Homo sapiens: one gene and its partners. The protein of the gene in region 1 purifies or fractionates together with the protein of each later gene. This does not show direct contact. Each region holds a gene or a part of one and is shown in the gene's direction. Other genes may lie near its edges.

Region 1 (4,281 bases):
CTTTGAATCAATTTTGCTTCTAAGAGAAGTTACTATTTATTCTTAATTAGATGGGGAGGAAAGTCTTTGAAAAGGAACCTCTACTTTACTTTTTACACGATTAATGGGTTTCTAATTTTCATGTAAAAATATTTTAAAATCTTATTTAGCTTCCGAAGAACTGACCATTGCTGGCATGACGTTTACAACTTTTGATCTGGGTGGACATGTTCAAGGTAAGATTCTTTTTTTTTTTTTTTTTTTTTTTTTTTTTTTTTTTTTTTTAGACAGGCTCACTCTGTCTCCCAGGCTGGAGTGCAGTGGTGCAATCTCAGCTCACTGCAACCTCTGCCTCCTGGGTTCAAGCAATCCTCATGCCTCAGCCTCCCCAATAGCTGGGATTACAGGCATGTGCCACCGCGCCCAGCTGATTTTTGTATTCTTAGTAGAGATGGGATTTCGCCACGTTCAAGGTAAGATTCTCTTACTCTTACAGTCACTTTGTTTTATTTTAACTTAACAAAAATGTGGCCATTAGTTCTAGTGCATGAAATCTCATTCTAGTCACGCAAGGCCAGAGTAGATTTAAAATTTAGGGATTATTACTCCCCGATAAATACTTTAAAAGCAAAGGGTGATTTTCATGATACTTCTGGCCAATTCAAATGAGAATTGCTTTTGGTGGTAAAGTGTATGAGTAAAATTAACTTCCATTCTCTCTACTTCAATCTACCTCTCACTGTCATAATCATGTTTTGAACATGTTACTGCTCTGTAAAACAAAAACAAAACAAAACAAAACAAAAAAACCTTCAGTGGCTAACTCATTACTTACAAAATAAAGGCCAAACTCATTAACCTGGCATTCAGGATCTCTATGATCTGGTCCCAGTTTACTTTTCTGGGCTTTTAAAAATTATCTTATAGAGACAGGGTCTCACTCACTATGTTGCCCAGGCTTGTCTCCAACTCCTGGGCTCAAGCAATCCTCTCATCTCAGTCTCCCAAAAGTTGGGATTATAGGTGTGAGCCACCACATCTGGCCTACTTTTCTTTTATTTCCCTCTATTCCCCTTCCCGTTCTTTTTGCTTCAACCAAATCAGACCTTCTTGGTGTTTTCCTCTGTGCTTTTGTTCATGCCATCCCCATCCGCACATGAGTAACCCCTTTAGGCCCCAGCGTATGCCCTGCTACCTCCCTTGGGAAGCCATTCTCAGTTGGAGTGCTCTCAGCTATACTTCATAGCACTTAGTATATTTGTGTACATGTCTACAACAAGTTTGGAAAGACTGCCTTATCTCTTATATTAAACTTGCGGGGACTAAAATCCTGTTTTTTGTTTTGTTTTAATTAAAAAAAATTTTTTTTGTAGAGATGGGGTCTCACAATCTTGCCCAGGCTGATTTTGAAGTCCTGGCCTCAAGCAATCCTCCTACCTCAATTTCCCAAAGTGCTGGGATTACAGGTGTGAGCCACCACACCTGGCCTGTTCATTTTTTATATCCCCAAAAGTACTTGGCAACATCTACCTCATAGTAAGTCATAACTAACCAATATTACCGAATTGGTGGGCATTCTAAAAACCTGATGCGACATATAGTTGAAAAGATTGTAAATGGTTCTGGCTAGTGAAAGCACATTTGAGACATGTAATTGTCTGGCATATACACAAAATAATTTCTGGAATACGATGATTAGAATTGGAATCTAATGGAATTTGTCTGAGACTTCATTTCTATGTTGTTTCAAGATATGTCATAATGGCTGGGTGTGGGGTCTCAGGCCTATAATCCCAGTGCTTTGAGAGGCTGAGGTTGGGAGGATCACTTGAAGCCAGGAGTTCAAGACCAGCCTTGCAACATAGCAAGACCCTGTCTCTACACAGAATTTAACAATTAATGGGGCATAGTGATAGACACTGATAGTCCTACCTACTCAGGAGGCTGAGATGGGACTATGACTTGAGCTCAAGAGTCTGAGGTTGCAGTGAACTAGCCTGGATGACAGAGCAAGACCCTGTCTCTTTAAAAAAAAAAAAAAAAGGTATGTCATAAAACTCAAGTCAGTGAAGAAAGTTATGTTATGGAAAAAATTACTCTTATGATTTCATAGACTTCAGTTAATTATTAACATTTGAGCTTCTTTTCTGAGTAAAACAATTTTGTTTTGGTTTTTTTTTAATTATTTTTTTTGAAACAGAGTCTGGTTCTGTCTCCCAGGCTGGAGTGCAGTGGCATGATCTTGGCTTACTGCAGCCTCTGCCTCCTGGGCTCCATCCTCCCACCTCAGCCTCCCAAGTAGCTGGGCAGGCACACACCACCACACTTTCTAATTTTTTTTTTTTTTTTTTTTTTTTTTTGAGACGGAGTCTCTCTCTGTCACCCAGGCTGGAGTGCAGTGGCATGATCTCGGCTCACTGCCACCTCCACCTCCCGGGTTCAGGTGATTCTCCAAGCCTGGCTAATTTTTGTATTTTTAGTAGAGACACAGGGTTTCACTATGTTGGCCAGGTTGGTCTCCAACTCCTGACCTCAGGTGATCCACCTGCCTCAGCCTCCCAAAGTGCTGGGATTACAGGCATGAGCCACTGTGTCCGGCTTGGCTAATTTTTTGTGTTTTTTTGTAGAGATGAGGTTTCACTATGTTGTCCAGGCTGGTCTTGAACTCCTGAGCTCAAGCAATCCACCTGCCTTGGCCTTCCAAAGTGCTGGGATTACAAGTGTGAGCCACCACACCCGGCCTTATTATTTTAACAAGCTTGTACCTGATATTAATTTCCTTCTGTCACTCATTCCAAATTTATCACTGGCAAAAAAAATCTGATAACTAGAAATGTCAAAAAATGAACACTGCATATATATGTAATATAAATACACACATTTTATGTATATATAATCACATATATGTAGTTTTTTTACTGCTTATATTTTAGATCTAGTAGCAGTCCTCCAATGAACTTAACGTGTATTTTTTTTTATTTTTATTTTTATTTTAAATATTCTACTCCTTACATATGATAATTGGAAGAGACTAAAGTATTTGACTTGCCCACAGTCAAGGAAAGCCTGAAATTCCCTCTTAGTTATTCTCAGAAGAATTTGGCACCACTGGGTAAAAGATTAACTTGAATATATTGTGAAGTACCAGCAGCTAAGGGATTACCGCACTTGATATCTGGTTGGACTCTTTGCTTAAACCATCTGCTGGGTTTGACCAACAAGTAAACTCTAACCCCTGATTGTTTTTGTTAGCTCGAAGAGTGTGGAAAAACTACCTTCCTGCTATCAATGGCATTGTATTTCTGGTGGATTGTGCAGACCACGAAAGGCTGTTAGAGTCAAAAGAAGAACTTGATGTAAGTTAAATAACTGAAACTAAATATAGTCAAATCACTCTGGTAAGCCTGCAGAAGTAGGTCAGAGATACAGGTATCAGAGTGCAGCTTTTCTGCAGTCTCTGATGAAACTCTTGGCAATTTGTTGAGCTCAGTGATTGCTTTAAGTAGTGATTACTTAGAATGCAGAGGGAGTAACTGAGTAATTGTAGCTATTGAGGAAGTACTAACACAGACATCTTTTATGAAGACTTAAGAAGCTCACCCTGTACAGAATGTACCCTTTTAGTATATTTCATGTCTGTTATATTCCTGGAGTGGGTTGATCTTGAGTCCCTGGTCATGCTAAGATGCTATATCTTAAGCCACAGCCTGGAAATGATAGGACATGCCATCTTTGACACTACTCCCAGGAGTGAGCAGAGGCATATGTAGCTACCTCCCCTCCAGTATCCCAGGTCAGATATTTTGTAAAGGGGCCCAACAGCAGCAGGCAAGGTCAGCACCAGATCTGGGGCCACAGAGTAAGCAGGTCCATGATTTGATTGAAGGTTGATCATACCATGGCTCTGCCCAGAGCAGGCAAACAAATACTTGTACGTGTGGAAAAGTCCAGGTAGGTTCTATGGTTACAAAACAAGGACAGAGAATGCCTGAGTTCCTACTTTGTTCCAGAGACTGTGCGTATTACTTGATTTAATTCTCAATTTCATAGGGTGGATGCTACTGTTCCTAATTCTCTCTAGAGCTTCAGTCAGGCTAACTTGCCCAAAGTCACATCTCAAAAGCAGTAGAGCCAGAAGTGAAACCACATCTGTTCACTTCTAAGGTGCTGGCTCTATACGTTCTATGTCACTCCTTTAAAGGATGAGCAGAGTAAACATTTACAGGAAGAGCCTTAGGAAGACAGAAGAATTTAGCTTATGGTTTCATTGAGGTCACTTTAAAATGTGGGGAAAGTTTGACA
Region 2 (4,281 bases), on another chromosome or scaffold:
TGTAAATACTGCAGATACAGATTCTGAGTGAATAGGAGAGAAGCAGTTGTCTTAGGAAGGTGTGTTACGTTTGGGCTGGGCATGGTGGCTCACACCTGTAATCCCAGCACTTTGGGAGGGTGAGGCAGGCAGACCACCTGAGGTCAGAAGTTGGAGACCAGCCTGGCCAACATGGTGAAACCCTGTTTCTACTAAAAATGCACAAATTAGCCAGGTGTGGTGGCACATGCCTGTAATCTCAGCATCCTTAGGAGGCTGAGACAGGAGAATCTCTTGAACCCGGGAAGCAGAGGTTCCAGTGAGCCAAGATTGTGCCACTGCACTCCAGCCTGGGTGACAGAGTGACAGTCTGTCTCAAAAAATTTTTCTTTTCCTTTTTTTTTGTTTCTCCAGCCATTCTCTGTAACAGTCTTGTGGTACATCGAGCAGAGTGCCTCACCTGGGGCGCTGGCGGCGTAGCTCAGCGGAAGACCGCTTTACTTGTTTTGCTTATTCCACTCTGGGCACACTTGAATCCTGTTTGTCTCCCCTCCTAGGTCCCGCGGCAGTGCTGGTGGCCATGGTTCCCGTAGCCAGAAGGAGTTGCCCACAGAGCCCCCCTACACAGCATACGTAGGAAATCTACCTTTCAATACGGTTCAGGGCGACATAGATGCTATCTTTAAGGATCTCAGCATAAGGAGTGTACGGCTAGTCAGAGACAAAGACACAGATAAATTTAAAGGTGAGTTTGGGGGATTCTTATTGTATATTACTGTAAAGTGTAGGGGAGGATGGGAAGGGGTTCTAAATAAAAATAGATTTGTGAACCAGAGGCTGTAATCAAGAAAGTGTTTTAAACATTTGCCTGGTCTAAGTGGCCGAAAGAAACATAACTCTTCAACTCATAGGTCTTCAGTTCACTTAGGGGAAAATGTTTTGTACACAGTGTAGTTCATAGAAATACATGGCATATGCCCAGGTTTGTGAGCCTGACCTCTACAGCAGTCCTGTCTGCCAGTAAAGGAGTTCCCCAGGAGAGAGAGGAATAGAGCCGAGGACTCTTAGGCACATTCCTCCTGGAATGACTCGTAGATTTTCCTTGGTAGTTAATCCAGTAATCATATGGTACTGTCATCCAGTAATCATAAAACCCAGAAGAGAAGCAGCCAGTGCTGTCAGTATGCATTTGTAAATTTGGAGAGTGTGCTTGGGAGGGCTGGCTGAGATTTCAGATATGGTGTCTATAGGTCGTGTGTCTGCAGGGTGCGGGAGCAAAGAGCAGGAAGAAGAAGGGATCCGAGCAGCATTCTCCTGCCTGCAGGGCTTCCTGAAGGAAGTGTGCCTGCTGTGTAAGTGCACGATGCTAGGACCCAGGATGTTTGGCCCGCATAATCCACCCAAAAGCACATCTGTGACAAGTATGGGGTAACTTGGGGCGGGGAGCTGTGCCAGCAGTCGAGAAGGCCTTGCTGACCTGGGTGGTTTTGTGTGTCGGTGGCACTCTTACTCTTTTTGACTTCAGAATCTGAAGCCACATGTAGTGTGTAATCAAACAGTGAAAACAAATATATCAGTTACACTTGTGAAGTAAGCTCCAGGAAGCATTAGGAACTAAACTTTGGGTTGGAGTGTGTGGGTGAGCCTAGCCTTTGGGCTGGGTCAGTCGCTGCAGGCTTTGGAGTTTGGCTCATGAAGGACCATCTTCATTTGAGCAGCTCTAGAAGATGAGATTGGGTGTCTGTTGCTTCTGTGAAGTTGGGGGTAGTTTTCTCCATTATTCTCAACATTGAATCCACTTAGGGAGGAAACCTGGGGGGACATCCCTCCAGCCAAGGCAGTATGTTCTTAACACACAGTTGGTAAACAGGGAAAGTTTGGACTCAGGCCTTTAGAGCACTTGCGGTCTAGTGGGCTTCAAAGATGAAGTGTGATTATTAAGTTATTATACACAGGGCAAGGACGCTGGGGGAGAGGGGATGCAGGGTGTAGTGCCAGCATCTGGGGAGTAATGAACTAGATTTAGACTCCAGACAGCAAGGAAGGGGCAATGTCAGACCCCTGGCATCAGGGACACAGGTTGTCAGTAACAGGTACTTGGACCCAGGCTGCCTGTCTTTTAATTAACATTCAGAGAAGAATGCCCTGATTGCCAAGGATATATTTTCAGCTTTGTGAAGCAAATTTTATGTCAGTTACCTGAGTAGTAAGTTAAATCGGCACTTTAAGCCTCTTTCTTCAGAGCATTTTAGGTACCAAGTTTGAAATCTACGAAATCTAATCCTCACTTAGATTAAATAGTCATTCAGAAGTCAGAAGAGCTCTGCAGATGGCCTGAGAAAGGTTTGAATATTATGGTTAAAACATTCAAGAAGAAAGCTTTCTAGAAACGCAGCTGCTATTTCAGTGCATGTTCAGTTAGCATTTTCTGACTGATAAAATAGAATTGAGAGGGAGGAATGCCAGTCAGGGTTCTATCTATTGAAAGGCTCTCCTAGTCTGCCATCATCTAGACAACAGAATGGTAGTTGTGACGTGGAGAAGTAGTATGAATAGGATCTTCCCACATCTTTAACCCAGAATTACTTGAGGAAATCGGGGTCTTCTTTTCTTTTCCAGGATTCTGCTATGTAGAATTCGATGAAGTGGATTCCCTTAAGGAAGCCTTGACATACGATGGTGCAGTAAGTATCCTCGGGTTTTCTCTGTCATAGCAGTTGAGATTGTTTTCTTTGCCAATACTTACACTATTTTCCCTTTATCATTAGCTGTTGGGCGATCGGTCACTTCGTGTGGACATTGCAGAAGGCAGAAAACAAGATAAAGGTGGCTTTGGATTCAGAAAAGGTGGACCAGATGACAGAGGTGATTGGTTCTTCTAAAGCTGAACATCATAAAGATTTGCAGTATGCCTACCAATTCCAACTCGTGAACGTTCCTAGTAGAACTCGATTATCTCATAGGTGTGATAGGTTCTCGTGAGCTCTTAAAAGTTTGCGTAAAATCCTAGAAAGAATGGCTGATGCTTCTGCAAGCCTGGCGTTTTTTGTTTTCTGTTGGAAGCAAAAGCTCTTAAAATGATTTCATTGAACCTTCCATCACTTGAGTTGTATGTCTTCCAAATGAATTTTTCCATGTTTGCGCAGCAAGGTAATGACACGACCTCAACTTTATCTTTTTTGTGTATCCTCAGGAATGGGTAGCTCTCGAGAATCTAGAGGTGGATGGGATTCCCGGGATGACTTCAATTCTGGTATCAGTATTTAAAGTATCACCACTTAATTTTTCCTAGGAGCCTTGCTGCTGTTCTCTGTTTCTTACGAGTAGCCCGCCTGGCCGGACTACTTATTTAGTTCCTTTAACAAATACAACTCTCCTGCAGGGTGCCCAGGCATGCAAGTAAGCCTCTGTTAGAGCCTGTGGGGGCAGGACTTGAGCCCCATGCACCTTGTGTGGTCACCTTTGTTAGCCTGCAGCTCCTTGGATGTGTACGGGCCTGGGTCCTTGAGCTCGCTCAGCAGTCTTTCTCAGACTCTAGCCCAGGGAAACTCCTCTGTGGTTTTGTGTATGGCACCAAGAGAAGTACTGTTCCTTCTGGAAAACATAGGATAGAGGTTTGGGTTCTTACATGGTGAAAGGTAGTCCTGATGGCCCTTTTTTTTCTTGGAGGATTGTGGGGAGGTCCAGTCCCTTGATGGTGGACCTGATGCACTTCGCCGTTCTCTTTCTTAGCCAACCCAGGCAGAGCAGCTGGTGGTATAGCACAAAGCATCAGTCCACACGCCAGGCCTCTGCCCTGCAGGGTGATTTTAAGCATTTTTATCATCTTTACTTTCTGTTTTTAAATTACAAAAGTATAATTTTTTATATATGCACATGATAAAAACTTCAGTTGTAACCCAGAAAGGTAGGAAGAGAAAAACAAATTTGTTTTCTTTCCCGCAAACTTGGGATGTGCTGTCAATGCTGTGCTGTATAGAACGTCAGCACCCTCCCCCCATCAAAACAAAACCGGTGTAAAGTAGTGGGTGAGTATGGGAGGGACTGGTGCACGCTGTCTTGTGAGTCTGAGATTTTTAAAAACTCAGCTTTGGCTGAACAGGTGACGACTACCTGTTGAATAATATAGTTCTTAAAAGTCCTGTAGCCAGTCAGAAATGAGCTTATTCATAAAAGTGCAGTATGGTGAAGTCAATCTGTAATTTTATGTATAAGCTAGTCTCTGATTGAAACATGCAGCAGCTGTCTTCTTAGAGCCAACCAGCAGCTCAGGGAACGGCCTTTCCCCTGCCAGTTTGGTAT
Region 3 (4,281 bases), on another chromosome or scaffold:
CTAGGTGGCACTGGTGTACCTGCTAGGTAATGGCTGTACCCTCACCATCCTCCTCTTCCCCTGGCCACCCCACAGGAGCTGGCAGAGAAGCTGCACCTCCAGGCTCCGCAGCACTACCCCGATGCCAACCACAAGCCAGAGATGGCCATTGCCCTCACCCCCTTCCAGGGCTTGTGTGGCTTCCGGCCAGTTGAGGAGATTGTAACCTTTCTAAAGAGTAAGTTGGGCAGAATGCTGAAGGCATGCGTACTGGGCCAGGGATACCTGGGGAACCAAGATGATAGGAACAGTGGCTGAGAACGGGTCACATGTCACAGGAACTGAAGGGCCTCATGAAGCAGTTTTTGGAGCCAGTGAGCCAGGCCAGTGAGACCAGGCTCAGGTGTGGTAGTCAAGGGCTGGTGGTGAGTGATTGGTTTCCACTGCAAAGTTTACTTAGCATTGCCGGCTCTTTGGTTAGGGCTGGGATGGAAAGGTGTCCTCCAACTCCCCACTTGTGTGGGTTCCATCTTACCATTCCTGATATGGGCCCTGGGCCTTGCCTTCCTGTAGAGGTGCCTGAGTTTCAGTTCCTGATTGGAGATGAGGCAGCAACACACCTGAAGCAGACCATGAGCCATGACTCCCAGGCTGTGGCCTCCTCTCTGCAGAGCTGTTTCTCCCACCTGATGAAGAGTGAGAAGAAGGTGGTGGTGGAACAGCTCAACCTGTTGGTGAAGCGGATCTCCCAGCAAGGTGGACACAGTTATATTCCTGGTTGGGTGCAATGCTCTGGCCTGGGCTTCCCAGCAGACACCAGACTCTGGGGACAGTTCTCAACCCCCTTGCCCAAGTGGAACACTAAAAGGGGCCCCACTTAGATGACCTGTTGGCAACTTAGCATTGCTTGCCTAGTCTTTGTGGAGCAGGGCCCTTCTTAGTTGAGTGCTGCTTCCCAACTGGTCATCTTCTCCAGATGGTTGGAGGCAGACTGGCATAGAGGACTCTTAGGATGCCTTCCACCTAGGCATTCTGAGATTTTCCCTAGCCCTGCAGCTGCCCTCCATGGATGGACTTGTATCTCGGGGCTAAAGAGGCAGGAAGGGGACACGAGCATCCTCCCTCTCCTGGAAAGGACTGATGCCTCCAGCACTCAGTCATTTGATCTTTCCTTTACCTTCTGTGTGCCCAACCTTGTGCTAAGAAGAGTTCAGGAAATGACTGTGATGGGTGTGGTCACTGTCACCCTAAAGGTGGGGAGTCAACACAAGCAGTAAGAAACCCAAAACAGAACAGACTCCCAGCAATGAGCTTATGTGGTGCAGGCGATGAGGTCTCAGCTTCTTAGCCTGGCAGCCACAACCCCTTCTCTAGGTGGCCCAGAGCTCTCTTTTTATTTTACCTCTACAGGTTTCCCATTACCTTTGAGCCTTAGGGCATTATTTATTTGACCCAAGCATATTTTTTTCTGTTCAGTGTGTGTGTGTGTGTGTGTGTGTGTGTGTGTGTGTGTGTGTGTGTGTGTGTGTGTGTGTGTGTGTGTGGTCTCTTTCTGTTGCCCCAGGCTGGAGTGCAGTGGTGCGATCTTGGCTCACTGCAGCCTCTGCCTCCCGGGTTCAAGCAATTCTCCTGCTTCAGCCTCCTGAGTAGCTGGGATTACAGGCATGTGCCACCACATCTGGTTAAGTTTTTATATTTTAGTAGAGACGGAGTTTCACCATGTTGCCTAGGCGGGTCTCGAACTCCTGAGCTCAGGCAATTCACCTGCCTCAGCCTCCCAAAGTGCTAGGATTACAGGTGTGAGCCACCACGCCAGGCCCCTTGCCTCACTTTAAAGAAGCCTGGCTGGGCACGGTGGCTCACACCTGTAATCCTAACACTTTGGGAGGTTGAGGCGGCCGTATCACTTGAGGTCAGGAATTCAAGACCAGCCTGGCCAACATGGTGGAACCCCATCTCTACTAAAGATACAAAAATTAGCCAGGCGAGGCAGAGGTTGTGGTGAGCCTAGATCATGCCACTGCACTTCAGCCGGGGCAATAGAGTGAGACTCTGTCTCAAAAAAAAAAAAAAAATGCTGGGCATGGTGGTGTGTGCCTGTAATCCCAGCTACTCAGGAGGCTGAGGCGCAAGAATCACTTGAACCCAGGAGGTGGAGGTTGCAGTGAGTCTAGATTGCACCACTGCACTTCAGCCTGGGAGACAGAGCAAGACTCCGATTCGGAAAAAAAAAAAAGAAAAAGAAAAAGAAAAAAAATTTAAAAATTAAAGAAGTCCACCCTTGCCACTCTACCCAGGCTGAGCTCATTTTCCCTTGTCGTTTCCAGGACACATTTTGGCCCTCAGCGCATTCTGCCTCATGCTCTCTGGAGCAGACCGAGAGAGATTCTCTGAGACATAGAACTTTCTTTTTTTTTTTTGAGACGGAGTCTCGCTGTGTCACCCAGGCTGGAGTGCAGTGGTGCAATCTCGATCACTGCAACCTCCGCCTCCCGGGTTCAAGCGATTCTCCTGTCTCAGCCTCCCGAGTAGCTGGGATTACAGGCACGTGCCACCACACCTGGCTTTTTTTTTTTTTTTTTTTGTATTTTTAGTAGAGATGGGGTTTCACCATGTTGGTCAAACTGGTCTCGAACTCCTGACCTCGTGATCCGCCTGCCTTGGCCTCCCAAAGTCCTGAGATGACAGGTGTGAGCCACCGCGCCCAGCTGAGACACAGAACTTTCAGTGCTAAAAACTAGAAAGTCGCCGGGTGCGGTGGCTCACACCTGTATTCCCAGCACTTTGGGAGGCCTAGGTGGGAGGATCCCTTGAGTTCAGGAGTTCGAGACCAGCCTGGGCAATATAGCGACCCCCTCTCTCTGCAAATAATAAAAAACTTAGCCGGGCATGGTGGCATGCACGTGTGGTTCTCGCTACTCAGGAGGCTGAGGTAGGAGGATTGCTTGGTCCTGGACAGTTGAGGCTGCAGTGAGGTATGATCGTGCCACTGCACTCCAGCCTGGGTGACAGCGAGACCCCGTCTCAAAAAAAAAAAAGGGAAAGCTCGGGCATGTTGGTTACCCTTCATGAAACTCTTTTGCGTTATCTCCCTAGATTTTGAGCTCCAAGGGCAGTGGTTCTCATACAGGGGACATTTGGCTGTTGTCTGGAGCCATTTTTTGATTGTCAAAACCCAGATAGGGGTTGCTAGTGGCATCTTGTGGGTGGAGGCCAGGGAAGCTGCTACACATCCATCAGTACACAGGACAGCCCCCACAATAAAGAATTACCTAGCCCAAATGTCAGTAGCGCCAAGGCTGAGAAATCCCATCCTGAAAGGACCATACTCTAGCTCTTTTAGTGGCTAGTATAGTCCTGGGCATATGAATAGTCAAGATATGATGAAAGATGGTATTTGTATGGACTGGAGTATCAAGCAAGGCTCGACCCCCAAAGGGCTGGAGGCGTGGCCAGAAGGACAGGGCCACTTTGGCTTCTGGATTCCTGTGGCAGGGACCTTTTCCTAGGACTCCCTGGCCAATGTGGGGCTATGAACAGCACTGAGTATCCCCCTAAGTGACCTTGGGGTGCTCTGTGACCCTCAGCGGCTGCCGGAAACAACATGGAGGACATCTTTGGGGAGCTTTTGCTACAGCTGCACCAGCAGTACCCAGGTGATATCGGCTGCTTTGCCATCTACTTCCTGAACCTGCTTACCCTGAAGCCTGGGGAGGCCATGTTTCTGGAGGCCAACGTACCCCATGCCTACCTGAAAGGAGGTGAGCCACATTTCAGCAGTGAGCCCCACTGCCATCCCTGCTGGGCCCTGTTTCCCTATCTGGACAAAGGAAGGAGAAGGGTGGTCAAGGAGACCCCCAAGGACCTTGCAGCTCTGACCTCTGAGGGTTCCTGGGCTCAGCAAGCAACAGCTGGTAGGGATGATGAATGCATTTAGCATTGAACACGCCTTGAATCCTGACACCAACCCTGTGATGCCATGCTACTCTGATTTTAAGTCCTGCCAGTCAGTGTGGGAACCACAATTTGAACGCAGGCTATATTGGATCAAAGCTGTTGTTCTGTCACAGCCTTTGTATGTCTGTCCTACCTACCAGGGATTTTTACACTAAAATATGCATGTTGCCATGGAAGGATGCCACCTTTCGACTGTTGGCTGCTTATCCACACATGCCTCATGCACAGGATTCTGGGGTAGAAGTGGGAGACTACAGAGTTGGGGCTCCCCAACCCCCAGGGGTTAACATGACTCCCCTCTGACAATAATGGGTGACCTGTCACCTGTTTTTGGTATTTGATATC
Region 4 (3,158 bases), on another chromosome or scaffold:
TCTTGGTCATCAAGGAAAGGGCTATCTCCCCATTATGGTGGGAGGGTGAATAATCTTTAATGAAACAAAATCAATAAGACTGATTCCTTTTTTTTTTTTTTTTTTTTTTTTTGCGTGCGACAGAGTCTCGCTCTATCGCCCAGACTGGAGTGCAGTGGCGCGATCTCAGCTCACTGCAAGCTCCGCCTCCCGGATTCACGCCATTCTCCTGCCTCAGCCTCCTGAGTAGCTGGGACTACAGGCGCCCGCCACCATGCCCGGCTAATTTTTTTGTATTTTTAGTAGAGACGGGGTTTCACCATGTTAGCCACGATGGTCTCAATCTCCTGACCTTGTGATCTGCCCACCTCGGCCTCCCAAAGTGCTGGGATTACAGACGTGAGCCACCGTGCCGGGCCAAGACTGATTTCTTGGAACCTATTCATTGGGCCAACATAACTCTTGCCACAATAACTACTGTGTATGGAAGACAGATTCATTGATGAATCAGATAGTGCACAGCACTGGGTCTTTCTTTAGTGAGTGGCTTCTCCTAAACTTGGTTTAACATTTAAGTAGGTATACTCTGAGGGTACTTGGTATTAGGCTGGAACTTTGTGACTACAGTAGAGAGAAACCATGGATTAGAGTTTGTGATGTGATTTCCATACTCCACAGTGAATACAATTTCATACAATGGACAAATACAATTGCAAACAAATACAAAAACAAAATAAAATTTCATACAACAAACTGAAGTTTTATCAGTACAGGAAGAGCTCTTCCTGTGTCCTGATTGGGATTTAAATCCTAATTTTCTTACTTCAGAGTTCTAGTAAAATATCTTTTATAAGTGACAATTCCCAGTCTGGGCAACATGGTGAAACCTTGTCTCTACTAAAAATACAAAAATTAGCTGGATATGGTGGCGTGCGCCTGTATCCTCAGCTTACTTGGGAGGCTGAGGAGAAGAATTGCTTGAACCCGGGAGGCGGAGGTTGCAGTGAGCCGAGACCACGCCACTGCACTCCAGCCTGGGTGACAGTGAGACTCCGTCTCAAAAAAAAAAAAAAAAAAAGAAAAGAAAAAGTGACAGTTCTAACTGAAATGCAAACATCAGGATCCTTGGGAATTAGGAAAATGGGGATAGCTAGAGATGGTGGTGAAAAGTTGGATTCTGGAGTCCCACAGCATGGGTTTTAATCTAGGTTTTAACCCACATAATAGCTGTGACCTTGGATAGAGTGCAAGGATAAACAAAACAGTTGGCCAAATATTTTCTTTTTTGGCCAAATATTGTCATTTGGACTACTTGTACAGGAGATTGATACTGAAGAACATTTTGGCTCAGAGTAGACCTGGTTAGCTTATCACTTTGAACTTCTGATTTCCAGATGCTGGCTATGAGTTTGACATCTGCTTCACCTCAGTGCAGAAGAGAGCGATCCGGACCCTCTGGACAGTGCTAGATGCCATTGATCAGATGTGGCTGCCAGTGGTGAGGACTTGGCGCCTCAATGAGCGGCACTATGGGGGTCTAACCGGTCTCAATAAAGCAGAAACTGCTGCAAAGCATGGTGAGGCCCAGGTGAAGATCTGGAGGCGCTCCTATGATGTCCCACCACCTCCGATGGAGCCCGACCATCCTTTCTACAGCAACATCAGTAAGGTATGGACAAACAGAGGTTTGGTCACTCCGCCCAGGATCAGGGGCTTTTAGTAGTGTCTGCCTAATCTCACTGAACTTACAATTCATGATAAAATAGTTAATTGTAATCCTTCCTTCTCCAGTGAATGACCTTCACTTACTAGAAGATATGGTTGATAGTTTACTATCTCCTTTTTTGTGTTTCCATAGTCAGATTTTATAAAACCCTGTGAATGTGAATGGGCCAAAATCGATACATCATGAAGTCTTTTAACAGATGTAACTCTTAATAAGTGGTGAACTTGGATTCTTTATTGCTTAGGATCGCAGGTATGCAGACCTCACAGAAGATCAGCTACCCTCCTGTGAGAGTCTGAAGGATACTATTGCCAGAGCTCTGCCCTTCTGGAATGAAGAAATAGTTCCCCAGATCAAGGAGGGGAAACGTGTACTGATTGCAGCCCATGGCAACAGCCTCCGGGGCATTGTCAAGCATCTGGAGGGTATGTATGTTTTTTCAGAGGCGCCCTCAAGGAAGGATAAAGCAGAACTGCCACAAATCAGGGACTTGGTAAAAAGGAGTCTAGGGAAGGGCTGGACATGTTAACAGCTTTAGAGATGGTCTAGATTGACTTCTAGTGAAAAAACACCCTCAACCCTTGTTTCTCAAAATGTGATCTGCAGAATAGTGACAGCTGGACCCCCTGGGAGCTTGTTATACATGCAGAACCTCAGGTCTCACTCCAGACCTGTTTCAGAATCGGCATCTATTCCCCAGGTGATTTGGATACACATTAAAGATTGAGAAGCTCACCTCTAGATTGGTATTGTCAAATGAAACTGCTAGTGAAAATCCTCCTTAGCTTGCCAAGCACAGTGGCTCATGCCTGTAATTGCAACATTTTGGGAGGCCAAGGCAGGAGGACCACTTGAGGCCAGGAGTTTGAGACAGCCTGGGCAACATAGTAAGACTGCATCTCTACAAAATTTTAAAAGGCCAAGCACAGTGGTTCATGCCTGTACTATCAGCACCTTGGGAGGCCAGGAGTTCAAAACCAGCCTGAGCAACAAAGCAAGACCTTGTCTGTACAAAAGAAAAATGAAAAATTAGCTTGATGTGGTGATGCTCATCTGTAGTCCCAGCTACTCAGGAGGCTGAGGCGGGAGATCGCTTGAGCCCAGCAGTTTGAGGTTATAGTGAGGTATGATTGTGCCACTACATTCTAGCCTGGGTGAGAGAGTAAGACCTTGTCTCTTAAAAAAAAAAAAAAGGAAAACAAATATATATAAAAGAAAAAATTCTCCTTAGTCACAACCAGGCACAACTTTACACATGAATCTCAATTTGCATCTTCATCCCCGAGGGCCTAGAGGCCCACGTGTGCTGATTTTTGGTTGGATGGGCTGTACAGGGTATTTGAGATGTGTAGTCTTGCTTCACTGTGGGCTTCTAGATCCCACTTTGGTAGAGATATCTGGCCATATACCTTGCTGTAGTTTGTTGGTGGTCTATCTTGTATACCTTTTCTTG
Region 5 (4,281 bases), on another chromosome or scaffold:
ATTTCTCCATCTTTGTGTTTTTCTAAGAAAATCCAGAAAAATATTTTGTTCTTGTAATTTCTATCTGCTCCCTACAATTTCTTTCTTCTTGATGCAGCAGCTGTGAAATGCCAAGATTTCTCCAGGTGGAATTGCTTTTACAGTTCTAGGATGAAGTGTAAAAATAAGACACAGCGCTGCCATCTCTTCACCTGGCCTGTTCTCTGTTGTTCTCTTCCAATGTGTTTCAGTGTGCAAGGGTCCAGTCCCATGAGATAATTCTAAGACTATCTCTTTTCCTCAAGAACACATGAAAGTAATTTTAAATGTAAATACTTGCAATTTAAATCACTTAAGAATACTTTGTTTCTTGAAGTTTACCTTAAATAGATTTGTGTGTTTAAAGTTTTTAGATTATGGTAAAAAAGGTACAGAAGTCTAGATTCTAGTTCATAATAATTTTCATTCCTCATGTTTCCTGAATGTCTACCCTGTGCTGGGCATGGTACCACAAGCTGCAGAGCCAGTAGAGAACAGGATAGAAAAGTTGCCTGCCCTCGTGAAACCTACTTTCTAGTGGACTTAGGGCAAATCCCTGTAAACAGAAGCAAAAGTCACAGAAGATAAGTGAATAGGTTGCTGAGGAAGGTGGAGGTTCATATGAAGGGAACATATTTCTTGTCCATGAGGCTGTGGGTTGTCTATAGATTAGCTCTATCTTGGCTAAGCCTGGCTTAGTTCCACATGCCTTTTCATTCGGGCACAGGCTGAGGGAGCAGCTCCCATCTGGGCCATTCTGTCTTCATGGCAAAGTACCAGAACACAGAGACTGAACTGAACGTCTCAAGTACCTTAAAAACTCACCTATGGACGCTGCCATGCCTGGCAATAGATTGGGAAAATCCAATCCACTAATAGGCTGCTTCTCCACCTCTGCAGATAGACATAGCAAGGAGGGGGTTCTCTTAATACTCTTTTGAAGAAGAGAAGGTGTATGATTGGGAACAAAGATACAATCTATCCGGTTATTTCTTAAAGCAGTAATTTTCTTAAAGATATTCACAACTATAGCCTGGTTAGCTTAATTAGATGGCTTCATTTATAAAATTCATTTTCTTTTTGGAAACACATGTCATTTAGCTGTTTTTACTAGGTTCTGTGTGTGTGTGTGTGTGTGTGTGTACATATGTGTGTGTTTGTGTATATATATGGAACATAGGTGGTGGTTTCTGCGAGAAACATATAAACTGGGTGAGAACAGCGTAGTTGCCTATGCACTATGCCTGCCTGATATTTGTTGAATCAACAAAAGAATGAGGAACTAGTGAGTCAGTTCCACTCTTTAGGAGGAAATTTTGTTTTATGAACATATACAACAAAATTCTCTTTAACTGTGAACTACTACATTTTAGGAAAAGTTGTGTATTACTAGACTTTAGCTATCACCCACTATTACAATACAGAAGAAAGAGCAATTTATAGCAACTCAGAGAGGTGAGGGGATGGGAGAAGCCAACCCTTATTACTGACAAAGAGAATAGTGATTAAGAAATCAAAGATATTGATCTCTTCCATTATTTATTCAATAAGTATGTATCGATTATATTATATGCCAGAAACTTCCAAGAGATGGGGAGATTGAAAGGAACCAAACCAACAGACCCTTTCCTTCATGAAGCTTATATTCTATTTCAGGAGAGTGGGCCATAAACTAAAAACCGTAAAATATGTATTATAATAAAGGTAAAAATTAAGTAGGGGCCAGGTGTGGTAGCTCACACCTGTAATCCCAGCACCTCAGGAGGCTGAGGCAGGTGGATATCTTGAGATCAGGAGTTCAAGACCAGCGTGACCAACATGGTGAAACCTTGTCTATACTAAAAATACAAAAAATTAGCCGGGCGTGATGGTGCACACCTGTAATCTCAGTTACTCGGGAGGCTGAGGCAGGAGAATTGCTTGAACCCGGGAGGTGGAGGCTGCAGTGAGCTAAGATCACGCCACTTCACTCCGGCCTGGGTGACAGAGCAAGACTCCGTCTCAAAACAAAACAAAACAAAATTAAGTAGGAAAGAGTTAAAGAGCTTCCAAATGTGGGCTGTAACTTTCAGTGGTGGAAAGCCCTCTGTGATAAGATGACATTGGTGTAAAGACTTGAGGGAGGTGTGGAGTGAACTGTTTAAATATCTCCACATAGAGCATTCCAGGCAAAGGGAATGGGAAATGGGAAGGCCTTGGGGCATGGGATATTGGGGACCGCAAGGGGAGAGCAGGTGAGAGCAAAAGTGTAGATAAGCTCAGAGAAGTAGCAAGGCCCATATCATCTAGGGCTTTGGCTTGTATTCCAAATAAGATAGAAAACTTTTGGAAATTCTCTGCAGAATGGTGTGTAATGTGATTTTGACTCTCAACAGGATCACTCTTGCTGTCACTTTGGGAATAGACTCAGGAGCAAGAGCAAAAGCAGAGAGACCTTAATCTAGGGATGAGATGATACAGATTTGTACCACGGTATGGTTTCTCTAAAAAAATACAAACCATGTTCCAAGTCAAAAAATGACATGGTATGATTTAGACGGGCTTCCCCTCAACTTAATCTGAATAATGATTTTCAATGTATTATATACTATTCATAAGAATTTGGAATGTAGTTCATAAGTGAACTACGAGTGATATGTTTAATGGCATATTGCTCTGAACATAACTTTAAATCAAACTTTGCAGTCACACTCTTCCTAAATAGAATATTGAATGCTAGCACAGAGTAATGGAATAAGTATTGACTTGGGGGCACACAGCTCTGTTCTTAAATATTTTTGGTGGCATAAATTGGGTCAAGCTGCTTAACCTTGTTGAAACTTGGTTTACCGTCTAGAAAAATGTCTGCTTTACACAGTTATTATGAGGAAAGTGCCAGTACATTTTGATTCATAGAAGAAACTCAATAAAAATACATTAGTTCCCTTCCCTGCAGATTTGGAAGATGTGGAGCAGTAGAGGAAATATCAGTGACGCAGTTTCAGTGTGGTATAAAATGTTTGCTTTATTATGAATGCGTGTTTGATAGCTGCTCCCACCAGCTCTCTTCTGACATTTTTGAAACATATGACTCAACAGGGGAAATTAATAGGATGATAGAACATTGAAATTTGAATCCTGACATAGGAGCCCTCCAGCTGTGTTCCTATAGGTGGTGGCAAACCCATTGCAGATCTACTGAGGCTCTTTCTGGAACCACATAGCCATTGGCCATATATATGCAAGTCTAACCAATACAAAAGCTTGGATATATTTTTTAGACCCTGCAGCAGTCTGAAAAATGTGAGAACTTTGAAAATCATCTTAATTTCATAGATGGGAGTTGAACTCACCCAGGATTAGATCATGACTAAGTGTTACTGAGATTCTGCCAAACTGTGTAGGGTAAAATGGAAATGAGGTGAAAATATGAGAGCAGCTATGGTATATTGCTCTTTTTGAAAATTTCCATCAGAATTATGTAATAAACTAGAGTTGGTAGGGTAGGTGTCTTAGACCTTTTCTATTACTTATAACAGAATACCTGAAACTGGGTTATTTATACAGAAAAGGAACTTATTTCTTAACAGTTATGGAGGCTAAGTCCCATGTCAAGGGGCTGCATCTGGTGAGGGCCTTCTTGCTGGTGGGGACTCTGCAGTGTCCCAGGAAGGCTCAGAGTATCACATGGCGAGGGGGCTGAGTGTGCTAGCTCAGGTCTCCCCTCCTCTTTTTTAAAGCCACCAGGTCCCCTCCCAACATAACCCACTAATCCATGAATGGATTAATCCATTCATGAGGGCAGAGCCCTTATAATCCAGTAACTCTTTAAAAGCCTCATCTCTCAGTATTGCCACAGTAGGGTCCAAGTTTATCTCAATTGCTTACCCTTTTTTTCTTTTTCTTTGTGAAACTGCCTGATTTCAGAAGATGTTTAGCTCAGTAAATATACCAGAGATTTGTTGTTTTGTAAAACAGTCTTTATTCTTTTCTTCCAAATGTGAGATATTCTAAGTGAAATGAAGACTTTTGTCCTTTATGCTTGCTGAAATTTGAATGGCTTGTTTTATAGCAGTCTTTTTTCCCTTTTTCAGGAACTCTTTCCAGTTAACAGACAGAGTGTGGATCATTTTGCTAAATACTTCACTGACGCAGGTCTTAAGGAGCTTTCCGACTTCCTCCGAGTCCAGCAGTCCCTGGGCACCAGGAAGGAACTGCAGAAGGAGCTCCAGGAGCGTCTTTCTCAGGAATGCCCGATCAAGGAGGTGGGAGACCACGGGCAGA
Region 6 (4,281 bases), on another chromosome or scaffold:
TCCCCAGTAGCTGGAGATTACAGGTGTGGGCCAGCACGCCCGGCTAATTTTATTTTTTATTTTTAGTAGAGACGGGGTTTCACCATGTTGGCCATGCTGGTCTCAAACTCCTGACCTCAAGTGATCCACCCGCCTCAGCCTCCCAAAGTGCTGGGATTACAGGCATGAGCCACTGCACCCAGCCCAAAAATTATGTTTAATGATCCCTTAGCTAAAACTCAATTAGGCCATTTTTCAAGGTTTTTTTTTTTAAAGCAAAGAATTTAAAACCTTTTGACATGCAAACGAATTTATTCATTTTTTTTCAGGCATTTGCATTCTCAAGACTGACACTAGTATTTCTTTTTCTTTTTTTTTTTTTTTTTTTTTGAGACGGAGTCTTGCTCTGTCGCCCAGGCTAGAGTGCAGTGATATGATCTCGGCTCACTGCAACCTCTGCCTCCTGGGTTCAAGTGATTCTTTTGCCTCAGCCTCTCGAGTAGCTGGGATTACAGGCACGCACCACCATGCTCAGCTAATTTTTGTATTTTTAGTAGAGATGGGGTTTTGCCATTTTGGCCAGGCTGGTCTCAAATTCCTGACCTCAGGTGATCTGGTCTCAAACTCCGACCTCAGGTGATCTGCCTGCCTAGGCCTCCCAAAGTGCTGGAATTACAGGTGTGAGCCACCACGCCCATCCAGACACTAGTATTTCTAATTGTTTCTTTTTCATTATCTTGGAGCTTTTTACACTCTAGTTTCAAAATGGTTGAAAATATGCCTTTCTTTTATAAAGTGGGACAAGGGCAGTTGTGAAAGGGGGGAGATGGGAAAAAAGCCTTGATGGCCAGAGGTACATTCTTATGAAGATCAATTTTTGGAAAAATCTATATGTGGAACTGAGTATCTGGAATTTGATTCTCTCTTGACTGACCTTTCTCAGTGTACTCCTTGACAGTGTTCCTGTTTCCCCAGGGGCGTGCTTGTCCCAACTGAAGGCCACTGGTATAATGGACTCTTTGTAGTAATTGGCTACACCTTTCTAAAACAAGTGGTCCCGTTTAATTAGCTACCTTAGGGTGAAATGAAATGTAGGGAACGAGTCTAAGTCTTTCTTGATGGTAGCTCTCTCCTCTTATTTCTGCATTTATTAAGGTATAAGAACTCTTTGCTCTCATGTGACTTAAAATCAGCAGCTGGAAATATTCTTGTTGCAAGATAAGTGATTAAGCCTCAGGAAAATACCTTGCTTTCTAAGGTCTGTCTGGCCTAAAATACCCTTGTAGCTGCTGTTGGGTTCCAAACAAATGGATGAGGAAAAAGGGTTAGGCCAGATTAGCATGAGGCAGTTTTGGGGAAAAGACAAACCCTTCTTTTGTATGTATGTCTGTGTACCCAGGTGACATGTACAGCCATGATGGGAATACTGATGAGCCAGAATGGGTAAAGACAGAGCGAGAGCAGTTTGTTGAGTTTCGGGATAAGAACCGTGATGGGAAGATGGACAAGGAAGAGACCAAAGACTGGATCCTTCCCTCAGACTATGATCATGCAGAGGCAGAAGCCAGGCACCTGGTCTATGAATCAGACCAAAACAAGGTAAGTCTGGCGAGGCCCACACGCTCTATCCTTGATTGAAGTATGCTTCTAGGGGATCACCTGAACAGTTTCTGTTAAGGTGCATAGAGCATTTAAGGTCTTAATTAGTCTAAGTCAGCCAAGTATCTGAATCTGGCGATTAAAACCTTTCAGGGCAGCACTAGCTATCTGATCTCATTTTAGAAATCCTTTTGCCCAGTGCTGATAGCATTGTAGGAAATTTGGCTTCAGAAAAGAGCCTTTGTGTGTAGCCTGTGCCCAGCATGCATCATCAGGTATTTTTAGATCCCCAGGAATTTTTTTTTTTCTTTGTTACTTCATTTGTTCCTTTACCTATTACAGGCCCATTCTGTCTACTCAAAGCTGGTTGTTTCCTTCTTAAATCAAATAGGCTTTTTTAAATTGGGTCCTTTGTATGGGCTATAAATCAGCTTTTCTCTGGAGCCTGTTCAAATTGTCCTTGATCAATTAATTATCTGAGGTATTTTGTTAAAAGTATTGTTGTCCCTAAGCCCAGTCACCTGCTTCAGAGATTACTCCTGCCCTGCTTGGAGTAAGCTGAAAATCGGTCTAAAGATGGAGATTTTCAGTGTTCTGAGTATATTTTTGTCTAAGCTAATCTTCAATTTCAAATTCAGTTTTTTATTTTAGAGCCTTTTTAAGTGTTGATCTGCTTTAAGTTCTTGCTCAAAGTCACTTTAGTAGCCAGGTGTTGTGTCCTGAGATGTATGAGAAAAGGAAATGCATGTAGTCATCCCTATCTAGGAGATGTTCCATATTTTCCTCTAAAAGGAGAGTTTTCTCCTCATGAAACAAACCTTTATCTCTAGCATTGAGTTGTTGTGTTATATTCTTTCCACCCTTCCACTTTTAACTTTCTTGATAAAAGAAATGTTTAATTGGCCTGGCACGATGGCTCACGCCTGTAATCCCAGCACTTTGGGAGGCCAAGGCAGGCGGATCACCTGAGATTGGGTGTTCAAGACCAGCCTGACAAACATGGAGAAACCCCATCTCTACTAAAAATACAAAATTACCTGGGCGTGGTGGCGCATGCCTGTAATCCCAGCTACTCGGGAGGCTGAGGCAGAAAAATCACTTAAATCACTTTAACACGGGAGGCGGAGGTTGCGGTGAGCTGAGATCGCGCCATTGCACTCCAGCCTGGGCAACAAGAGCGAAACTCCGTCTCAAAAAAAAAAAAAAAAAAAAACAAGGAATGTGTAATTGCTGTTTTCTTCCCTCTTCGTATGTATGTAGGGGGAATGAGGGCTGAGTAGTTCACACTTAATTTAGTAGAAATGAGAATCTTAACTTCTGATTAACCCCAATTCTTCTATAACAGTGTTTCTGAATTTTTAATGGGAAATATGTTCTTCTTCAATTCATTGCTATCTCTACTTTCAGGATGGCAAGCTTACCAAGGAGGAGATCGTTGACAAGTATGACTTATTTGTTGGCAGCCAGGCCACAGATTTTGGGGAGGCCTTAGTACGGCATGATGAGTTCTGAGCTACGGAGGAACCCTCATTTCCTCAAAAGTAATTTATTTTTACAGCTTCTGGTTTCACATGAAATTGTTTGCGCTACTGAGACTGTTACTACAAACTTTTTAAGACATGAAAAGGCGTAATGAAAACCATCCCGTCCCCATTCCTCCTCCTCTCTGAGGGACTGGAGGGAAGCCGTGCTTCTGAGGAACAACTCTAATTAGTACACTTGTGTTTGTAGATTTACACTTTGTATTATGTATTAACATGGCGTGTTTATTTTTGTATTTTTCTCTGGTTGGGAGTATGATATGAAGGATCAAGATCCTCAACTCACACATGTAGACAAACATTAGCTCTTTACTCTTTCTCAACCCCTTTTATGATTTTAATAATTCTCACTTAACTAATTTTGTAAGCCTGAGATCAATAAGAAATGTTCAGGAGAGAGGAAAGAAAAAAAATATATGCTCCACAATTTATATTTAGAGAGAGAACACTTAGTCTTGCCTGTCAAAAAGTCCAACATTTCATAGGTAGTAGGGGCCACATATTACATTCAGTTGCTATAGGTCCAGCAACTGAACCTGCCATTACCTGGGCAAGGAAAGATCCCTTTGCTCTAGGAAAGCTTGGCCCAAATTGATTTTCTTCTTTTTCCCCCTGTAGGACTGACTGTTGGCTAATTTTGTCAAGCACAGCTGTGGTGGGAAGAGTTAGGGCCAGTGTCTTGAAAATCAATCAAGTAGTGAATGTGATCTCTTTGCAGAGCTATAGATAGAAACAGCTGGAAAACTAAAGGAAAAATACAAGTGTTTTCGGGGCATACATTTTTTTTCTGGGTGTGCATCTGTTGAAATGCTCAAGACTTAATTATTTGCCTTTTGAAATCACTGTAAATGCCCCCATCCGGTTCCTCTTCTTCCCAGGTGTGCCAAGGAATTAATCTTGGTTTCACTACAATTAAAATTCACTCCTTTCCAATCATGTCATTGAAAGTGCCTTTAACGAAAGAAATGGTCACTGAATGGGAATTCTCTTAAGAAACCCTGAGATTAAAAAAAGACTATTTGGATAACTTATAGGAAAGCCTAGAACCTCCCAGTAGAGTGGGGATTTTTTTCTTCTTCCCTTTCTCTTTTGGACAATAGTTAAATTAGCAGTATTAGTTATGAGTTTGGTTGCAGTGTTCTTATCTTGTGGGCTGATTTCC
Region 7 (3,616 bases), on another chromosome or scaffold:
CTGAGATCGTGCCATTGCACTCCAGCCTGGGTGACAGAGCGAGACTCCTGTCTCAAAAAAAAAAAAAAAAAAAAAAGTCCTAAAAATGGAAAGCCTTCGAATGGTTTATAAACAAGGCAGTGCCTTGATCTGATTTGTGTTATAAAAATTTCAGTCTGGCTGCAATGTGGATAATAGTTTGGAATGGGGAAGAGAAGATGTTGGGAAGCTAACTCTCCTAGCAAGAATGATAGAATAGCTTACAGTAGGGTAGTGGCAGTAGTGGAGGAGATGGAATAATGGAGATTCAGGGGCTTGAATTTGTTAACCATTTAGTTCAACAATATTTATTGATTGGCTTCTCTGTTGTGAGCATATCTGGGAGAGGAAGAAAAACAAGCCAGGATAATCCCCAGGTTTCTGGTGTATAAATGTTGGTACTACTCTGCGATGGAATGGAAAAAGACTTGAGGCCCTGAGAACTGAACCATGATTAGGAGCCTTGGAACAGTAGCAATTGTCATCTGTGTAAATAAGGTTATTGATTTCTAAAAGGTCTATGTTTAATCAGATGGATTAGTCATTCTGTCTTTCACACCTGTGGTGACTAATTCAAAGGAAAAGCCCTATCATTTTGCCAGCTGGTGTTTAAGAGTTGCTTTGTTTTCTGTGAAACCAGGTGTACTGCATTAGAAAAGTTTATTCAACTTTTAATCATTAAGCATTGTGATAAATTGTAAACTTAGAAATTGTTTGGTTTACTGTATTAAAAATGTTGGATTCCTGTAATTCCAGCATTTTGGGAGGCTGAGGTGGGAGGATTGCTTGAGTTCAAGAGTTCAAGACCAGTCTGGGCAACATGGTAGGACCCCATCTCTACAAAAAGGAAAAAACAATTTGGCCTGGGAGTGCACGCTTGTGGTCCCAGCTACCCAGGAAGTTAAGGTGGGAGGTTTACTTGAGCCCAGAAGGTTGAGGCTGTGATGAGCCATGATCGTTTCATTGCACTCTAGCCTGGGCAACAGAGTGAGACCCTGTCTCAAAAAAAAAAAAAAAAAAAAGACCATGGGGTGTTAAATTATTAGGGCATAGCAGCAATTTAAACTTCTTTGTATTATCATCCCTTACAAATTAATCTTTATTTGAAGCAGCCAAAATGTGTTGAATCCTTAAGTACTCTGTGCTAGGTATTTTGTCAAATGTTTATATGGATTGTCTCTTTAATCTTCTGGAGTAGATATTTTCTCATAGTTGAGAAAACTGAGACTTAGAGCAGTTAATTTTCTCACAGTCACAAGCTAGTACATGACTAAGCCTGGATTCAGGTTCCAAGTCTTCATTCCAAAGACTATATTTACCACTACACAATTAGCCTAAAAGAAAGGCAGTAGGTTCTGTCTCTTTATTAACTTTTGATTAGGTTGTTAAGCATATAATTAAGGGGAGAATTCCTATATGCAGGTCCAAGGAGTTGCTTGTTTTCTTTTAGCCTGAGGGTGGCAGTGGTAAATTCTCATGCCTGAAGATTATGCATCCTTCATATAGACCAGTGGGTATTTTTTCATAACCTGTAATATTAACTTCTTATTGCTAGTAATGATCCTGCATTCTGGGTTGTTTTATACCAGGCTTTCTTCGAGAGTCACCCAGCTCCTTCAGCTGAGCGTACCATCCAGCAGTGTTGTGAAAATATTCTGCTGAATGCTGCCTGGCTAAAGCGAGATGCTGAGAGCATCCACCAGTACCTCCTTCAGCGGAAGGCCTCACCACCCACAGTGTGAATCCTGAGGTGCCGCCATTGGCGGTTCTGCTGCTTCGCTGCAGGGATAAGGTGGAGCTACCGAACAGCTGATTCATATGCCAAGAATTTGGAGTCTTCTTTCAAACCAGTGGGGGTTGGACAATGAATGTAGTTAACTGGTTCCTGCTCACACTCCAGAATTAAATTCTATTGAAAAAGGAAAATCAGCAATTCAGCAAAAAATAAATAAAAAATAAAAATGTAAATATGATAGTAATAAAATAGAGCATAACGAAACTGTGAAACTTTCTGAAGCCTTGTCAGTGGTTAAAAGTATTTAACACTCTACTGTTAATGACAGATGTTCTGTTTTTATAACCTACCAAAAGGAAACTAGAGGCTTCTTGGTGAAGAGCATTTTTGTGAAGTGGGTTCTGCAAGGAGCCTATAAAGCCAAGGGTGGTGTCCATTTCTGGGAATGGTTAAACACAAAAGGCTGATAGCTGGTATCACATAGTTGGAGTCAGTGCATAATTCCAAGTGGCTTTTTTTTTTTTTGGCACGGGGACTGATCAGGAAGATATATTCCTGCATAACTCAATCTGAACCAAGGATTGTAGTTTAGTTTTCCTCCTTGCCTTCCCTTCTGTGTGACCGACCCCTTGGCCAAAAAAAAACAAAAAGCAAAAAACAAAAACCTACCCTGTTCTGGTTTTTTTCCTCCCTTTAGTTCCACCCCCAACCCCCATTCCCTGGTGTCCTTCTTAGAGATGAAGAAATAATAAGGAAACATCTTTCATAGCCACATTAAATAAGAGAAACTGATATACATTATTTTTTTCTTTTTAAAGATGACTTATAAGAACCCTGAAATTTATATAGGTGAGACAATAGAAATAAAAAGATCTTCAGCCAGGCCTTTCTGAAGGAGTTATTCTGCTAAAAATGGTCTTAGTTGTCTGAAAAGCCAGCTCTTGAACCTCTTCACAACAGTATCAACACTGGCTTCTCCCGGTTCATTTTATGCGTGCGAGAAGTCAGTGGTAACTGCTGCAGGGCTTAATACATTAGTGGTAACTGGTTTAAAAAACAAAGACTGTAAGCCTGTGTGTGCCACTGTTTGCTTCAACAGTATATCCTAATAAGCCTCACCTATTTAATCCAATGAGTTTTAAATCTAAATCTCATTCCCTTCTTCTTTCCCTACCTTTTTTTTCTTTTTTTCTTAAAAAAATATTTTGTGTTATTAACAGAAATTCATATTTGGTGTGGCTTAACGGTATTTCAGAAGGTCATCAGATTGTGAGACTGCTTCCTTGAAACATTTTTGTGCTATTGTTTTAAAAAAATAATTAAAAAACAGTTGGCGTTAATAAAAATGTCAATGTGAAACTGATGTCCTGATTCACTTTATTCTCTTTCTTTGATAAGAAACTAAAAACTTTCCTATCATTCAGTAGGCTTATGCAAAGTTATACTATCATAGGATTTTTCAAATTCAAAAAAAATCCAGTTCCTTAATTCCTAATTTATAGATCTTAACAGAAAAATCCTGAGATTCATTCTAAATCAGTTCTACATTCTCAAAACTCTCTCAGAGACTCTTATAGTCAGCATTCAGGAATGAACTTGAGACTTCCTCAGTCCCTAGTTTTGAGGCACCCTAGTTCAGGCACCATGCTCAGGGCTGCCCTTAGGCTCTCAAATGTTCTTAAGGCACCAGTGAAGCAGGGGCACCAAAAAGACTGAGAAAAATGCAGGTTTAATTGAAGAACTCAGAATTTTGCAATCAGAAATTCTGGAAACAGGTTATTTTACTTTCAGCATACATGTGATTTTTGTCTGTAATAATAGTTAAGTAGTTTGAATTACGTTCAGGGAGAGGTTATACTAGAT

Evidence for each region.
Region 2: the proteins of SAR1B (region 1) and EIF4H purify together in Homo sapiens (affinity purification with mass spectrometry; one large-scale study listed by BioGRID and IntAct). This does not show direct contact.
Region 3: the proteins of SAR1B (region 1) and MPI purify together in Homo sapiens (affinity purification with mass spectrometry; one large-scale study listed by BioGRID and IntAct). This does not show direct contact.
Region 4: the proteins of SAR1B (region 1) and PGAM1 purify together in Homo sapiens (affinity purification with mass spectrometry; one large-scale study listed by BioGRID and IntAct). This does not show direct contact.
Region 5: the proteins of SAR1B (region 1) and BZW2 purify together in Homo sapiens (affinity purification with mass spectrometry; one large-scale study listed by BioGRID and IntAct). This does not show direct contact.
Region 6: the proteins of SAR1B (region 1) and CALU purify together in Homo sapiens (affinity purification with mass spectrometry; one large-scale study listed by BioGRID and IntAct). This does not show direct contact.
Region 7: the proteins of SAR1B (region 1) and NPEPPS purify together in Homo sapiens (affinity purification with mass spectrometry; one large-scale study listed by BioGRID and IntAct). This does not show direct contact.

Annotation. Positions count from the first base shown.
Region 1 is NC_000005.10:134,608,625-134,612,905, reverse strand, and holds part of SAR1B (small COPII coat GTPase SAR1B), read left to right. Parts: intron 1-149; coding exon 150-215; intron 216-3,231; coding exon 3,232-3,335; intron 3,336-4,281. UniProt on the Homo sapiens protein: Small GTPase that cycles between an active GTP-bound and an inactive GDP-bound state and mainly functions in vesicle-mediated endoplasmic reticulum (ER) to Golgi transport.
Region 2 is NC_000007.14:74,187,075-74,191,355, forward strand, and holds part of EIF4H (eukaryotic translation initiation factor 4H), read left to right. Parts: intron 1-536; coding exon 537-724; intron 725-2,598; coding exon 2,599-2,663; intron 2,664-2,747; coding exon 2,748-2,844; intron 2,845-3,172; coding exon 3,173-3,232; intron 3,233-4,123; exon of another isoform or gene 4,124-4,220; intron 4,221-4,281. UniProt on the Homo sapiens protein: Stimulates the RNA helicase activity of EIF4A in the translation initiation complex. Binds weakly mRNA.
Region 3 is NC_000015.10:74,892,586-74,896,866, forward strand, and holds part of MPI (mannose-6-phosphate isomerase), read left to right. Parts: intron 1-75; coding exon 76-217; intron 218-552; coding exon 553-735; intron 736-3,566; coding exon 3,567-3,740; intron 3,741-4,281. UniProt on the Homo sapiens protein: Isomerase that catalyzes the interconversion of fructose-6-P and mannose-6-P and has a critical role in the supply of D-mannose derivatives required for many eukaryotic glycosylation reactions.
Region 4 is NC_000010.11:97,429,006-97,432,163, forward strand, and holds part of PGAM1 (phosphoglycerate mutase 1), read left to right. Parts: intron 1-1,373; coding exon 1,374-1,648; intron 1,649-1,949; coding exon 1,950-2,130; intron 2,131-3,158. UniProt on the Homo sapiens protein: Catalyzes the interconversion of 2-phosphoglycerate and 3-phosphoglyceratea crucial step in glycolysis, by using 2,3-bisphosphoglycerate. Also catalyzes the interconversion of (2R)-2,3-bisphosphoglycerate and (2R)-3-phospho-glyceroyl phosphate.
Region 5 is NC_000007.14:16,690,743-16,695,023, forward strand, and holds part of BZW2 (eIF5-mimic protein 1), read left to right. Parts: intron 1-4,091; coding exon 4,092-4,262; intron 4,263-4,281. UniProt on the Homo sapiens protein: Translation initiation regulator which represses non-AUG initiated translation and repeat-associated non-AUG (RAN) initiated translation by acting as a competitive inhibitor of eukaryotic translation initiation factor 5 (EIF5) function.
Region 6 is NC_000007.14:128,766,078-128,770,358, forward strand, and holds part of CALU (calumenin isoform a precursor), read left to right. Parts: intron 1-1,378; coding exon 1,379-1,578; intron 1,579-2,985; coding exon 2,986-3,090; 3' UTR 3,091-4,281. UniProt on the Homo sapiens protein: Involved in regulation of vitamin K-dependent carboxylation of multiple N-terminal glutamate residues. Seems to inhibit gamma-carboxylase GGCX. Binds 7 calcium ions with a low affinity.
Region 7 is NC_000017.11:47,620,161-47,623,776, forward strand, and holds the end of NPEPPS (puromycin-sensitive aminopeptidase), read left to right. Parts: intron 1-1,366; exon of another isoform or gene 1,367-1,607; coding exon 1,608-1,760; 3' UTR 1,761-3,116; downstream 3,117-3,616. UniProt on the Homo sapiens protein: Aminopeptidase with broad substrate specificity for several peptides. Involved in proteolytic events essential for cell growth and viability. May act as regulator of neuropeptide activity.